2 separate regions of the Homo sapiens genome follow, and region 2 is linked to region 1. A link means that fine-mapping ties the variant in region 1 to the expression of a gene that starts in the linked region. Tissue or cell type: cerebellum. Region 1 holds a variant in brackets; the other region holds the start of a gene. All regions are shown on one strand. Distances are from middle to middle.

Region 1 (8,103 bases):
CCCGACAAAAGGCAAATAGGTCACTCTGGCCATTCTGTGACTTACAGCACAACAACGGGAGAAAGCTCCCTCAGAAACAAAGAAACTCGGCCAGGTGCGGTGGCTCACGCCTGTAATCCCAGCACTTTGGGAGGCCGAGGCAGGTGGACCACGAGGTCAGGAGATCGAGACCATCCTGGCTAACACGGTGAAACCCCTTCTCTACTAAAAAATAGAAAAAATTAGGCCGGGTGTGGTGGCTCATGCCTGTAATCCCAGCACTTTGGGAGGCCGAGACGGGCGGATCATGAGGTCAGGAGATCGAGACCATCCTGGCTAACACAGTGAAACCCCGTCTCTCCTAAAAATACAAAAAAATTAGCCGGGCATAGTGGTGGGCGCCTGTAGTCCCAGCTACTTGGGAGGCTGAGGCAGGAGAATGGCGTGAACCCGGGAGGTGGAGCTTGCAGTGAGCCAAGATTGTGCCACTGCACTCCAGCCTGGGCGACAGAGCAAGACTCCGTCTCACAAAAAAAAAAAAAGAAACAAAGAAACTCCATACGCACTAAAGGAAATGGACAAATGCTACAGAACCTTTCAGTTGTCATCTCAGCTTTAAAACCAGAAAGAGGCTGGGCTCGGTGGCTCATGCCTATAATCCCAACACTTTGGGAGGCCAAGGCAGGTGGATCACCTGAGGTCAGGAGTTCGAGACCAGCCTGGCCAACATGACGAAACCCTGTCTCTATTAAAAATACAAAAATTAGCCAGGTGTGGTGGCCCACACCTGTAGTTCCAGCTACTCGACAGGCTGAGGCAGAAGAGTCACTTGAACCCAGGAGGCAGAGGTTGCAGTGAGCCGAGGTGGCACCACTGCACTCCAGCCTGGGTGACAGAGCGAGACTCTGTCTCTTAAAAAAAAAAAAAAAAAAAAAAGGCTGGGCGCGGCAAGGTAGCTCATGCCTGTAATCCTAGCACTTTAAGAGGCCAAGGCAGGCGGATCACGAGGTCAGGAGTTCGAAACCAGCCTGACCAACATGGTGAAACCCCGTCTCTACTAAAAATACAAAAATTAGCCAAGCATGGTGGCACGCGCCTGTAATCCCAGCTACTCAGGAGGCTGAGGCAGGAGAATGGCTTGAACCCGGAAGACAGAGATTGCAGTGAGCCAAGATCCCACCACTGCACTTCAGCCTGGGTGACAGAGTGAGATTTCATCTCAAAAAAAACAAAAAAAAACAAAAAAAACAAAAAAAACGGCTCGGTATGGTGGCTCATGCCTGTAATCTCAGCACTTTGGGAGGCCTAGCAGGATGGATGACTTGAGACAAGCCTGGACAATATGGTGAAACCCCATCTCTACTAAAAAACACAAAAATTAGGCCAGGTGCGGTGCCTCATACCTGTAATCCCAGCACATTGGGAGGCCAAGGCCAGTGGATTACCTGAGGTCAGGAGTTCAAGACCAGCCTGGGCAACATGGTGAAACCCTGTCTCTACCAAAAATGCAAAATTAGCTGGGCGTGATGGCGCATGCCTGTAATCTCAGCTACTCGGGAGGCTGAGCCTGTAATCTCAGCTACTCAGGAGGCTGAGGCAGGACAATCACTTGGGGCTGGGAGGCAGAGGTTGCAGTGAGCTGAGATTACACAACTGCACTCTAGCCTGGGTGACAGAGCTAGACTCCATCTCAAAAAAAAAAAAACGAAGGAATGGACCACTTTTGAAAAATTATTTGTTGATCAAATCCTAGAAGGCATGATCATTTTTTTTTAAGACAGGGTCCCTCTATGTTGCCCAGGCTGGTCTCGAACTCCCGGGCTCAAATGACCTACCCACCTCAGCCTCCCAAAGTGCTGGAATTACAGGATTGAGCCATCACAGCATGAGCATTTTGAAAGGCAAAGAGAGCTATCTGCCTTGGACATCATTTGGAAACAGTGAATTGCCCAGTTCCATGGATCCTATGAGACACTCACCTGTATTCATCGTTGGGGTGTGCAATCTCTACAATGTCTCCAAGCTTGATGTGAGGGAACACTTTGGGGTTCACAACTAGCTCATCATCTGAAAGACAATTCAGCCACTTCAAGTAGAAAAACACTCATTAGGTACACTGTATGTTCTCATACTGGTTCCTCACAACCCCATCAGGATGGTATTGCCACCCCATTGACAGATGAGGTTCTATTTTGAAACGAGGCTTACAATGACTAATGGATTCACACAGGAACACCAAGCTACACAGCAGCAGAGTGGGATGGCGCTCAGGTACCTTTGTCTCCATACCCTGTGCCCTTTCTACTACCGCACTGCTTCCAGGGGCAGAGCAGCCCTTAGTATCTGGGAATTAGGCTTCTGGACAGCCTTTTACCCCCTCAAATATTGTGTATCTGGCATATAACAGGAACAAAACAGGCTGGTTCCCACAGATACAGCACAATTCGTTACAGTTATTCAATGTTCAAAGAATTTCCCAAACAGTGTCTTAATGTGACCGTCACAATAAATCTTTAGATCTAACAGGAGTAAGAAAATAACCTCAGAGAGTCCAGGAGCAGTGGCTCATGCCTGTAATCCCAATACTTTGAGAGGCCGAGATGGACAGATCACCTGAGGTCAGGAGTTCAAGACCAGCCTGGCGAACATGGCGAAACCCCGTCTCTACTAAAAATACAAAAATTAGCCAGGTGTGGTGGTGGGAGCCTGTAATCCCAGCTACTTGGGAGCCTGAGGCAGGAGAATCACTTGAACCCGGGAGGCAGAGGTTACAGTGAGCCGAAATCACACCACTGCACTCCAGCCTGAGTGACAGAAAGAGACTGCATCTCAAAAAAATAAATAAATAAAATAAGAGGGATGTGGTTTCATGTTTATCTACCCCTGCCCCTCTACTAGGGATGGGGAGAACTCTATCAAATATTGCAAACTCAGAAGCATAAAGACAGAATGACTGTTTTGCTGTTTTAATTTGCAAGGAAAGACATCACCTTTAATTATGCTAATATCATGACAATTAAGTTTATCTAGATTTCAAATATAATCAGACCCAACAAAAATTTAGCCTAGTAAAATGAAACATTGGCTTACTCCCAAATTTTTTTGTTTTCTTTTAGAGATAAGGTCTTGCTGTTGCCTAGGCTGGCGTACAGTGGCTATTTACAGGGACAATCCCACTGCTGATCAGCACAGGAGTTTTGACCTGCTCTGTTCCCAACCTGAGGTGGTTCACACTTCCTAAGGCAAGCTGGTGGTCCCCCACTCCTGGGAGGTCACTATATTGATGCAGAACTTAGTGCAGACACCCAATCAGCATAATGTACTATAGTCTGGAACTCCTGGGCCCAAGTGATCCTCCTGTCCCAGCCTCTTGAGTAGCTGTGACTACAGGCATACACCACTGCACCCAGCAATCCCTAATTTTATTTGCTATGTTTCCACTGACAGTTTCACGACAAATGCTCTTTGGAGCTTCCTCCCTAATTTACATAGTCTGAATTAAGGTCCCTGAGAACATATCCCCTTCTGCTTGGTTTTATCATTTCCTTTTTGCATGTCTATCTTACCAAACTGAAAACTCTTTAGGGACAAAGAACCTTGTGGCATTCATAATCATTACGTCTGGCACAGGTATACACCTAATAAATATCTGTTGGTTGTTTCTTTTTTTTTTATTATTTTTTATTTTTTTAAAGACAGGGTCTTGCTCTATTGCCCAGGCTGGAGTGTAGTGGCATGATCTCGGCTCACTGCAACCTCTGCCTCCTGGGTTCAAGCAATTCTCGTGCCTCAGCCTCCCTAGTAGCTGAGATTACAGGCACGCACCACCACACCTGGCTAATTTTTGTATTTTTAGTAGAGATGGGGTTTCACTATGTTGGCCAGGCTGGTCCTGAACTCCTGACCTCATGTGATCTGCCCACCTTGACCTTCCAAAATGCCAGGATTACAGTCATGAGCTACCATGTCCAGCTGTTAGTTGTATTTTGACCTATAGTCTTGCAGAAGACTGGATACAGCATCTAACTACCTTTGTATTTTATACATAAAAACATGTATTTGTATACGTTGTATATACTGTATCCTTGTATTCTTTTCTCTGCCAAAAGTTATTTGCTTTATTCCACTCCACAAATATTTAGGCAACATCAACAGCATCAAAGTAATAACAATAGACTGTGCATTTTAGCAGAAATTGTAGTTTAAATATAGCAATGCCTGTAGCCTGGTAATTACAATGGCTACATTTATTGAGCACAGAGTCTAACACTCTGCTAAATGCATTACATGTATCACTTTACTTAAGCCTCACAATGCTCTATGATAGAGAAACTATTGTTTTCCCTTTTTGGCAGTCCTTCCCCTCTGGAGGCTTATACCTACATAATGTAGAAGTAAATACACCCTAAAATACAATGTTAAAAAGACTCATGCCAGCGCGGTGGCTCTTGCCTGTAATCCTAGCACTTTGGGAGGCTAAGGTGGGCGGATTGCCTGAGCTCAGGAGTTCGAGACCAGCCTGGGAAACATGGTGAAACCCTCTCTACTAAAATACAAAAAAAAAAAAAAAAAAATAGCCAGGTGTGGCGGCATGCACCTGTAGTCCCAGCTACTCGGGAGGCTGAGGCAGAAGAATTGCTTGAACCTGGGAGGTGGAGGTTGCAGTGAGCTGAGATCACGCCACTGCACTCCAGCCTGGTGACAGAG[C/T]GAGACTCTGTCTCAAAAAAAAAATGCCAATAAATAATAAAATAAAATAAAAAGATTCATTATATTGTTAACTCCAATTTCTGAAGTAAATAATGCTGTTAAGACAGAATGGAAAATTATTCCCTTACAAAAGAAAAAAAAATTATACTAAGTGCCCTTTTATTCTTCAGATTTATGGATTCAAGGCACTAAGGAGAGCTGGGTACAGTGGCTCACGCCTGTAATCCCAACTATTAGGGAGGTTGAGGTTGAGGTGGAAGGATCTTTTGAGCTCTAGAGTTCCAGACTAGCCTGGGCAACATGGGGGACCGTGTCCCAAAAAAAAAAAGAAAAGAAAAGAAAGGAAAAAAAATAGATGTTAAGAGAAACTATTCTAAAGCCCTTCAACTTTCAGATAAGGTACACTAGGAGCTTGCCCAAGGTCACCAGGAAAATTAGAAGCAGAGTAGATACTCAGACTATAGCTCAGTGCAGAATAACATGCTGTATCCTGCTCCTTCTTCCCATGCCTACAAGCCAGGCAAAGGTTCATGCTTTGATCATACCTGCTCTATGCACATCTATGCCACTTCTCTCTCACTCAATGTAAAAACTGATAAACGATTTTAGTTTCTCTTATCTGCCAAACCAGTGCAGGCTGGAATTTTATGGAACATACACGGAAGATTTGTAATTAATAATGCAATTCAACAAATGAAGGGTAGTAAACCGGCAGCATTCACAATGTTCCTTAAAAGTCTGAATGCAAATGCATTAGAAGGGTCCTGCCATCCTCCTATTGTTACTGTATGACAGTTGCTGCTTTAGTCTGTTTAGTCGCCTGTTTAGCCTCAATTGTCACACGAGTCAGTGTGTAATTTCTAGGTATTGCACACACCAGAACCTCAGCCAACTTACAAAACCTCTAAAGACCAATCGATACTGACCACTGCCCCCAAAGCCCTTCTTGTGGATGACGAGTTTGTAGACCTTTGTTGTTCTCATCTTGCACTGTTTTTCCCTTTAGCTGTTCCAAGCTTGGGGCAGAGAAGTCATCTTGCCTCCCTGCCACAGAAATACAAACGAAAAGGTTGGAATGTCAGATTTTTCCTTGCAACCACTCTTTGATTTTAGGCCAGTGAAGATACTGGTGTTCCTCTGCTGTGAAGTGGTGCCAAGTGACTCTCGGAAGAAGTCACTCCTCCAGTTACAAGGAGCGATGGAGAACAAATAGAACCACAGAATCCAGGAACTAAGGGGAATTCGGGCCAGGGGCTAGTCAAACCTAGGAGAAGATATTCTATCACACCCCCATAGGGGAAGCATTGCGCTGAATGGGTGCTCATCACCTTGTCTCCATCTACACCAATAACACCCAAATAGTAAAGAGATCTTAAAAGAGGTTAGCCCACTCATTTTGTAGATGATGAAAGTGTGACTCCGGGCAAGGGACTTGCTCAAGGTCACTCGAGACTTAAGAGACACTCCCACCATTCTCGTTTTGCTGCCAATGTCCTGAGCAAGGCAACCACAAAGAGGAGGAAGGCAGAAGTTCCTTCCCCAAACCTCGGTCTGTGCGAACTCTCAGCAGACCTTCCCTGACTCCGTTTCACAGCTGAGGCCGTTGAGGCTCAGAGAGGGAGAGAGACTTGTCCAAGGTCACACAGCGGAATGGGGATGGAGCCTGGAACTCGAACCTGGGCCAAGGTCCCCTATCTCAAGCCCCCCCAATCCCCAGTCCGGGGCGGGCAGCTCCACTCACCGAAGCTCTAGAGCCCCTTCCCGCCTCTGGCCGGGGCACTGAGGGCTGGACCCTCTCCAGGTTCCCTGCGCCTCCTCCAGATACCCCGCCTACGCCCGCGCGGCCCGCGCTGTTCCGCCCCTAAGCCTGAAGCGCCTACTAGGCCCGCCCCGACCGTGTAGCGCTCACCTGAGAACCCGCGCCGCTCCGGTGGCTCCGCCCCGGGGCCCCGCCTCCTTCCCGCCCTCGCGCCCCCGCGCCGCTCTCGCCGGGCCTCCGTCTCGTCTCGGTGGCCGCACCACTTCCTCATCCGGGGCTCGAGCCGGGGGCGGGGCGTCGTGTGCGGCCTCTTCCTTGGGCCACCTCCTGGCGTTTCCTGCCCTCGAGCACTAGAGCCTCCCGCCCCACGGAGGAAATCCATTTCCTCCTAGTCTATCCGAAGTAGATCCATGGCCACAGAGCTTCGTTTCCGACTCAGTGATCTCCCCACAGGGGAAACGAGATCCGTCAGAGCTCCGTTTTCTGTTATATGAACGAGGTTAATGACTCATGTGGCCTCATTGGGCAGCTAAGAGGCGCCAACGAGAGTTTCTGGGAGGACTTCTGTAAAATGCAAGGGGCTGAGCACGCGAGAGTTAGGGTGATGGCCTCTGCTGGGAAGTGTCCACTTACGGGGGGCTTTTCAAACCCTTGCAAACTCTAAACGACGTTCTGCGCCCCTCAGGTTATTAATAAGAATGGCTGCCGTGGCTTCATAGTCCTTATGTAATCATTGCATCCCTATTACCTGATGGATGCAGGAGGCAGATACTATCCTATTTCACAAACCAGGAAACAGCCTGAGGACACAAAACCCTTCAGAAGGAAGCAAGGACGAATCCTGACCCGTTCCCAGAACGGGGCCTTTAACCAACATCCTTTGGTCATACCCAGGGCACTGCCTAAACTCGCGTCTGTCAGGATATCTTTCTCTCCAAGCAGAAAACCAGAGAGCTGGGTGGGCTGGGTCAGGCTCTGGCCAAGGACTCCTGACAATTGCCAGCTCCGCCTGCTGCCACTGATACCCCCGCCCCCTAGTCCAGTCCACCGTTTCTGACCTGAGCGGCAGCAACTCGATAGGGACTCCCTGCTTCCCCTCTTGAAGCCAGAGAGACCTTATAACTAGAATCGGTGTCTTGGGTCACGCCTCTCCTCTGCTGCTTCTAATCACACTGACTGCTAAATCTAAACGACACAGCACTTGTCTTAAATTTCTTTATATCTTTAATACTAACAGTGCCCATTTCTTACGGATTTGGAAAACTTAAAAATGTTGAAAGAAAAAACATGTTACACTGTAGTGAAAGATTCTGCAGTGGACCAAGGGGACCCTGGGACAGGACAAGCAACGTTCTTAAGCATGGATGCCTTTATGTTGGGACTCAGGAGAAGTTAGGTAAATAATGCAAGTGTTAAGTAATTGCAATTTTTTTGTTTGTTTGTTTTTTTGTTTTTGTTTTGAGATGAGGTCACCCTCACCCAGGCTGGAGTGCAGTGGCATGATCCCGTCTCACTGCCATCTCTGCCTGCCTGGCTCATGCGATCCTCCCACCTCAGCCTCCTAGTAGCTGGGATTACAGGTGCATGCTCAGCTAATTTTTGTATTTTTTGTAGAGACGGGGTTTTGCCATGTGGCCCAGGCTGGTCTCAAACTCCAG
Region 2 (8,103 bases), 190 kb before region 1:
GCCACTGCACTCCAGCCTGGGTGACAGAGCATGACTCCCCCCCCCACCAAAAAAAAAAGTACACATGGACTAACAGCTACCGTTTACCAAGTGCCTAAAAAGTTAAATAAGTTCTAACCAAGCGCAGTGGCTCACGCCTGTAATCCCAGTACTTTGGGAGGCCGAGGCAGGTGGATAACCTGAGGTCGGGTGTTCAAGACCAGCCTGACCAACATGGAGAAACCCCATCTCTACTAAAAATACAAAATTAGGCGGGCATGGCATGGTGGTGCATGCCTGTAATCCCAGCTACTTGGGAGGCTGAGGCAGGAGAATTGCTTGAACCCGGGAGGCAGAGGTTGCAGAGAGCCGAGATTGCTCCATTGTACTCCAGCCTGGGCAACAAGAGCGAAACTGTCTCAAAAAAAAAAAAAAAAAAAAAAGTAAAATATGTTATATAAACTTGCTAAATGTAACACACACACACATAAAACGTTAGGGGTACCCTCTCCGAAACCGTATTTCTGGAAAAGTGTGACGCTACAGTCTGTCACTGATATAAAATCCCAGACAAAGACCAACTAAAGAAAATCCCCACCAAAGAAAATACATTTTTGGTTTCTTTAAGGGAGTCAGTTCCGGACTGTGGAAGTTCTTCTGGGGATAATTCAGGGACCCAAACCCACATGGGGACTACAGTTTCTATTTCAGTGCAAGAAAGCCACGTAAGCTGTTTGCCCACCTGAAAGGACCTTTTAAATTCAAACTATTACAAGAATAATCCAGAGCCTTCTTCCTTCCTCAAAGACGATTACATTTTAAATGCCCAGTTAGTGGGAAACATAGCTCCCTAGTTTTTACATATTTCAAACTGTAGTATCAATGTGGCTTTAAGATTTCCTACTGGTTGGGTGTGGTAGCTCACTCCTGTAATCCCAGCACTTTAATAGGCTGAGGCAGGAGGACTGCTTGAGGCCAGGAGTTTGAGACCAACTTGGGTACCATATAGAGATCCTGTCTATACAATTTAATAATTAGCTGGGCACGGTGGCATGCATCTGTAGTCCCAGCTGCTCAGGAGGTTCACTTGAGCCCAGGAGCTCAAGGCTACAGTGAATTATGATCGTGCCACGACTGCACTCCAGCCTGGGTTCCAGAACGAGACCATCTCTTTAAGAAAAAAAAAAAAAATACTAATCACACCTCAAAATCCTCCTACTCTCTGTGACACTGATCTGTCTCACCTGGGGCAGTCAGCTGTGCACTTTTACACAGCACCTGCTCATTTCCCCACTTCCCAGAATCTCACAGTTGTTGCAACAACAGCCTTTTGCCAGTGGTTGGGCCAAATGCCCCTCCTCTCCGACTCCTGTTTCCTTAAACTGTAGTTTTGTTTCCTGCACTTAAGATTTCTAGGGAGCCGCTGTGGCTCAGGCCGGTTGCCCTGGCACTCGGGGAGGTGAGGCTACACGTTCGAGGCCAACCTGGTCAACACTGATTAAAAAAAAAAGATTTCTATATATATATTCTGCAGGTACTTTAAACGTGTTTCTGCCCGTTTTCTGTCAACACTGTAATCAACTGGTGTATCAGTGTTAAAACACAATGCTAGCCCAGTAATTTTTACATTTGATAACTTTACAGTTACCATCTATGTTTTAATATAAAATAGATGACTTAGGGCCATAATACATGATGAAATTATGTCTGTCTATGAATATCCACCAGAAATCTATCTGGTTATTTTCCCTCTTTCCTTAAATCACTTAGTCTTCTGGACTAACATTTAATCCCACTTTATAGGTTTATTTCAGTTATCAAATGGTATTTACAGAGACTACGAATTGTGTAGCCTAGAATTGCCTAGCCTAGAAAGGACTTAGGTTCTAGAATCTTTCACAATATTTCTTCCCACTATTATACTCTATGCAAGCTGGTAGGTATGAGATAGAGCTTGAAGATACTCCTTTATGCTTCACTTCAGAAACATTTCTTGCTTCTTCAAATTATGGAGAGAAGCAGGGAAGAGAAGTTCTCAACAGGTTTGAGGCAAGACCATTGTTTCCAGTATGCACGATTTTTCTTCAAGCTTACCAACACTGTCCTCCAGGTGACGCTGGTAGAATGAGGAACATCAATCATTACAGGAAGGCAGTATTATCAAGTGAGCATTTTAATTATGAAGGAAACAGAAAACAAGTTAGAAGACTGAAGGCAAAACTGACTTGTTAATAACAGCAACATCACTAGTTTTATACTTCAGAGGACCTAAAGCCAAGATGTAAGTTTCAAGGTTACAGACTGGTGGCATCAGAATATATCCTTAACACATGTGTCCTGCTCCATCCTCCCTACAGCAGGCTACTTACCTGCCCTTCCCCAGCCCTGAAGAAAGCCCAGGTAAACCCAGAGGGTTACTGAAACTTACACCCTTTCCAAAAGCCTTAGTTAAGGCTGATGAGATTAATAACATAGAGACTGAGTCATCCCAGTAACATTAAGAATTTAATCTACAAACACCAAGTTAGCAGGGAAAGTGACCCCTGCCAGTCCCTTCCAATATATTCTTTTTTTTCTTTTAAAGAAAATACCTATAAGCACAATATATTCCATTTAGATGATGGGGGAGAAATGGTTTATCACCATTCTGAGATGGCAGAATTAAAGCTTGGATTGACTCTTCTACGCTGGGTGGCTTTTCCAACTCATTAATTATTTCAAATATAGATATTATAGATTCCTTTGGTTTACAAAAGGCTACCTTAACCCTCCAGAGAAGATCTATGGACACAAGTAGCTTGCTGCAGGAAAGCATTTTACAAGCCTACTAGAAAGCCAGTCTTTTTCTCTGCTCAAACTAGATTTCGTTCTGGTAACATCTCTCCATTCTTGCCTTTTTCCCCCATTTCAAGTTGCCTCAGGTTTCTGATTGTTCCAGAACACACCTTCTAGCCATTTTTCCTTAACCTCCATTTCCCCTTCCTTTAAACCTCGTCCCTCCTTTCTTTTCACCACATTTATTTCCCAAAGGGCTCCGAACACTGCAGTCTTTACGTCTCACTTAGAGGGTGAGCAACCACTTCATGAAAATGTGTGGAGAGGCCTCAGCCTGCATAATCCCAGCACCACTCAGTTACTGGGGAGGAGGGGCTTAAGTGTGACCTGCTGTGGACAGAGGCAGCTTTATCCCACAGAAAATTAAGGTTCAGGGTCCCTTCCAAGGAAATGCATTCGTCAGTCCCATTTTTGTAAAATATGCAAAACTATATTTTAGATTTTCTTTTAAAGGACCCCCTGAATTACATAAAGTTCAGCCTCCAGACCTAGACCGTCCCCCGGTCTGGAAGAAAACCTGCCTCACCACAACAGCATGCTAATAGTGCTCAAGTCAAGATCACCAACAAATCAACATACGGGCAACGGTGTTGCTGGTTTCCAAACACACCCAGTTATGTGTGTAACAAGGACACCAGAGGAAAGGCAACTCTTCAAGCACCTTTCTTACCTGAACAATCCTAAATATTGGCCCCAACTACATATTTCATCTGATATTAACATCAAAAGCCTTCAAATGAGCTTTCCAAATGACTTAAGATTTTAGGGAGCCTTTGTATTGGCAGTTTTTTTTCGGAACTCCCTCCAAAAGGCCAGCAAAGGATACATTTACTATAATCATGGGCAGTAATTCTCAGACTTAAGCCAGCTAAAAATCGCCTGTGAGAGCTGGTTACAATGCAGATGTCTGAGTCTCACCGCCCGAATTTCTGAATGTATAGGTCTAAGGCGGAGTTCAAGGGGATCCTCCCAGGTCTCAGGAGGTTGTACACTGAACATAGGTTGGTGGTCGCAGTTGTTCTACCACTGTGTGACCTTGACGCAGGGAGAGGAAATATTCATTTACAGAAAACGTAAAATAACGTGGAGAGAGAGTGAGATGGTAACCGGAACTCAGAAATGCAGGTGGTGTGTGACCCACGGTATTTTGCTAGGGTGTGGCTGGGCACGACTCATCCACCGGAGAAGCTGCAGAATCGATTTATGAGGGTCTCAGGAATGCAAAGACACACAGATTCGTCTCACCTAGAAGTCACGTTTCATTTTAATCTCCAAGCAGACAGCGCAGCAGCAAACCTGGGGCTGTGGAGTGGGGCCCCACACCCTCCGCCCACTCTCCCGCCCCCGTCCACGCCTAGACTGCAGGAAAGGGGTCTTCGCACACAAAGCCAGACCCCCAGGCGTGGGAAGATGGAACCAGAACAATTCGAACGAGCAGAGCAAAACAGATCGGAATTGCAGACTTCAGGTCGTGGCAGAGAAAACCAGCTGAGACAGGGCGCCACTTACTAGGTGATTCTTTATTCCAAGTTGGGGAACGGAGGAAGACGAGAGGGGGAGCCCCCGGGTCCGGTGAAACGCTCTAGGAGAAATGCGGCTCCTTCGCGTCCCCTAGGGCACCCTCTGCCCCCGGCCGGGTTCCGAACTAAGATGTGGCGACCCCGACCGGCCCGCCCCCCTTCCGGGGCTGCCTTCGCGATCCCGAACTGCACCCTCCCGGATCCCCCACCCTGGGCCCAGCCTCAGGAAGTGGCGGGGCGCCCAGCGGGAGCGGGAAGCGCGGGCTAAGGGCGGGCGGGCGGCCACGCCCAGCCGGGTCGCCGGGTCGCCCATGGCCGGGAGGGGAACGCGCCCGCGGCCATCCCCGTCCCTCCCCAACGCCAGGCCCCCCCCGGCCAGCCGCCCGGGCTCCCGGCGCGCTCACCGCCTTCATAGCGGAGGCCATGTCGTCGTAGCGCTCCGCCTGCTCGGCCAGCCGCGCCCGCTGCAGCAGCTGCTCCCGGTCCCCCATGTCGCTCGCGGCTCGGCCTCGCCTCGCGCCTCACACCGCTGGCTCGCTAGCCCTCCCGCCGGTCAGTCCGCTCCCCGGTCGCTGCGGAGGCCGCCGCCGCGCACGCGCACTGGCTCGCCGGCCGGCCGGAGGCTGCAGGCTGCAGGCTGCAGGCAGCGCCGCCGCTCGCGCCCTCTCGCTGGCTCGCCCCGCGCGCTGTGGCTCGCGCCGCGGACAACGCCGAGGGAGGAGACGCGGCCGCGCTGGGGGATGGGAGGACGGGACGACGCCTGCGCAGTGAGAGTGGCCAGGCCGGGCGGCGGGGAGCGGCGGGAGTGGGAGGGGGGAAGGGCGGGCCGGCCCTAACGGTCTATTTCAAGGTGACGTCACCTACTATAAATAGCCACCGCCGCCGCCGCCGCCCGGCCTGAAAGCCGCGCAGGCGCTCTGCGAGTGCTGCATTTTACCGCCGCAGAGATGGAGGTGGAGAAGGGAAAGCCGGGCAGGAGACTGCGGAGCCGGTGGAGGGGGCGCGGTGATGGCGGCTGCACAGGCAGTGCATTGTCATAGCCCCACCCTGAAACGCGCCACTCCATCCACGTTAGAGATCTGGCTTGAGAAGGGCCCCAAAAGCAAGCAAACATACTGGCGGAGAAGCCGGGAGACCGCGTGCCCCGAGGGGCGGGTCCGCCCAGCCCCGCCCCAGCCGTCCCGCCCGCCCCGAGCCCTGCCTGTCCATGCGTTCTGCTGGGCCACACCTTGTACTGGTCCGGGCAGGATCGAGTCCGACCCTCGGGGACAGCCCCGCTACACAGACACACACAATCGAACCCAACCTGAGACGTAGCCTTGGGCAGGCTGTGCCTTCCACCAGAGGAGGGGACTGGGTGGCCAGGGCGGGACAAGTAATATTCAGGACACATTAGGAGCCAGCCCAGTGCTAGTCCCGTACAAGCATCCTCCTCTTTAATCCTCACTACCCAGCCCACAGTGGGCACAGCTGGTCTCCCCATATTTAAAACGTGGAACCTGAGGAAAAGCGAGGTTAGTGACTTGCTCAGGGTTACGCAGCCTGTAAGTGGTGGGGCCAGGATCTGAGTCCAAACCCAGGCTGAACTTTCTCTTGTGGCAAAGAGCTGGGGTGGCCCAACTGGCTGGTCACTGAGCCCCTCCCAATCCTGGCTGGTATTGGATGCTGAGGGTCCCTTGTGCCAGGCCCTGGACTGGGCTGCCCGACAAGCTAGGAAAATGATGATTAAAACAAGGCCCCCACTTGATTTCAACACGCCAAGGGCAGTGCAGGAGAGGGGGCCTTGGGCTCGCTGAGAATTTTATTGAGCATCTACTGCATGCTCAGCCCACAGGGATAAGCTGGATCTTGAAGGAGAGTCAGGAAAAAGATTAAGGCCTGGGGTACAGCATTGGCAAAGGCTTGGCAGTGACCTGGGAGATGGTGAGAAGAGAGGCCTAAGAATGGGAAGTGAGGTTGGGTAAAACAAGATTACGGAGTCTTTTAAATGCCAGGCCAAAGATTTGAGGCTTCATCCTTAGGTAATTGGGAAGCCATATTTCAGGCCTGGAATCTTGCTCTAGAGAGTAAGACATGTTCGAAGGGAGAAGGGAGGGAACTGGAGACCAGGCCTTTTCTGGACCTGTTTTCCATCTGGAGAATTGGACTTAACTGTTTCAAGGACTTTAGAATAGATATCCACATGCTGAAATGTCAGAGCTGGCAGGACCCTTAGAATCACCCCTGTCTAACCCCTTATCCTGAATAACGGGAAACTGAGGTCTGAGGGAAAGGAGGGGCTGGCCCTAGTTTGCACAGCGAGTGAGCAGAGCTGGGGTCTCCATACCAGGTTTCCTGCCTCCCAGGCCTTCCTCTTCCTGCTATGATGCTGAAACGATCACACTTCTGGGGGCCCATGAAACAGGATTTGAATGTGGGTCTAGGAGGAGGCCACTACCCCAGGCTTCACCATGCTTTGAAGAGTCACTTTTGCTGTTGGAATCGAGGTTAACAAACCAGGCTAATCTTTCCCCTAGTGAATATATTTAAAGAGCATGCTAGATAGTAATGAATCATCCACTCCACCCCCCATAAGGATGGGGTCCCAGTGAGAGATGGGAGGAGGGCCAGCCCTGGATGGGGGGACCTCCTCGGTTCCTTCTAGCTCTTAGAGGGCTTAGAGCCCTTCCAGCTTTTCTGATGAGGTTGGACTAAGATTGATTTCAAAACAGTGAAAATTAGGTAGAGCTGGAGCATTCTAAATAATTGATTTCTGACATGTGTAAAGGACACTCTGGTTCTCCCATGAAGCTTTTCTTCTCACCAAACTTCCTCATCTCCTCTTCCTCACCTCCTACCCACCCATCAGCTCAGTGTGCTCTCACCCTGTCCCTACTCCTCCACCGTGGCCATCAGAGCCCTCCTTGTTGTCAAAGCCAAGGAGGTTTCATAGTGCCCACCTCCCTGGCCCTCTTGGCTGGACTGGGCACGACTGCTCACCCTTCCTTGACCGACTCTCCCAGCTTCCCTTCTGCTGCTCCGGCCATTGCTCTTCTATTTGCTGTATGGGCTTGTCTTCTAGCCTACCCCAAAATACTAGGGTTCCTCAGGGCTTTGTCCCGAGCCCTCTTCACACACTGCCCTATCCTTGGTGACCCCATCCTCATGCACTCTAAGGAACCATCTACCATGTTCCTAGTACCAGGCAAGGTGCTTTGCAGAAACGTGCATTTTTTTTTCCCTCAAGATACCCCTGTAAGGCTGGTCCGATTTCCTTTCCTGTTTTTTTGTTTGTTGGCTTTTGTTTTGTTTTGAGATAGAGTCTCACCCATTCACCCAGGCTGGAGTGCAATAGTGCTCTCTTAGCTCACTGCAACCTCCGCCTCCCAGGTTCAAGCGATCCTCCTGCCTCAGCCTCCCAAGTAGCTGGGGCTACAAGGCGCACGTCACCGCACCCAGCTAATTTTTTCAGAGAAAATTATTTAAACTCTTGTGCCTCATCTGTTAAATGGATTTTTTAGTCTTTTTTTTGGTTTGTTTTTTTCTCTAAGAGATGGAGTCTCGCTCTGTTGCCCAGACTGGAGTGCAGTGGCACAATCTTGGCTCACTGCAATCTCCGCCTCCCAGGTTCAAGCTATTCTCCTGCCTCAGCCTCCCGAGTAGCTAGGACTGCAGGCATGCACCACCAAGCCCAGCTAATTTTTTTGTGTGTATTTTTAATAGAGATTTCACCAGGTTGGCCAGGCTGGTCTTGAACTCCTGGCCTCAAATGTACCTCCTGCCTCGGCCT

Which allele goes with the higher level. Positions count from the first base shown, and alleles are read on the strand shown. Sizes are in standard deviations (SD) of each study's normalised expression.
For the expression in cerebellum of the gene that starts at base 4,193 in region 2, T is the high allele of the variant in region 1 and C is the other (large effect, 1.0 SD a copy in GTEx).

Evidence for each region. PIP is the estimated chance that this variant, and not a neighbour inherited with it, causes the effect.
Region 2: it holds the start of YWHAH-AS1, and the variant in region 1 is fine-mapped to the expression of YWHAH-AS1 in cerebellum (GTEx, PIP 0.92).

The regions. Positions count from the first base shown.
Region 1 is chr22:31,752,489-31,760,591 of GRCh38, reverse strand. DEPDC5 (DEP domain containing 5, GATOR1 subcomplex subunit) reads right to left here and starts at 6,573. Exons shown (of 43, transcript NM_001242896.3): 1 at 6,428-6,573; 2 at 5,613-5,730; 3 at 1,959-2,046. The coding sequence starts at 5,670. It also overlaps the pseudogene RN7SL20P. RefSeq lists a silencer at 6,499-6,808. The variant C/T (reference allele first, on the strand shown) is at 4,687.
Region 2 is chr22:31,941,456-31,949,558 of GRCh38, reverse strand. It overlaps YWHAH-AS1 (YWHAH antisense RNA 1), which reads left to right and starts at 4,193. Exons shown (of 3, transcript NR_171018.1): 1 at 4,193-4,326. YWHAH (tyrosine 3-monooxygenase/tryptophan 5-monooxygenase activation protein eta) reads right to left here and starts at 5,024. Exons shown (of 2, transcript NM_003405.4): 1 at 4,739-5,024. The coding sequence starts at 4,825. LOC124900477 (a long non-coding RNA gene) reads right to left here and starts at 4,725. Exons shown (of 3, transcript XR_007068065.1): 1 at 4,324-4,725; 2 at 3,881-4,059; 3 at 407-2,095. RefSeq lists enhancers at 4,054-4,103, 4,847-5,704, 5,705-6,562 and silencers at 4,424-4,763, 4,834-5,053, 5,064-5,153, 5,434-5,583.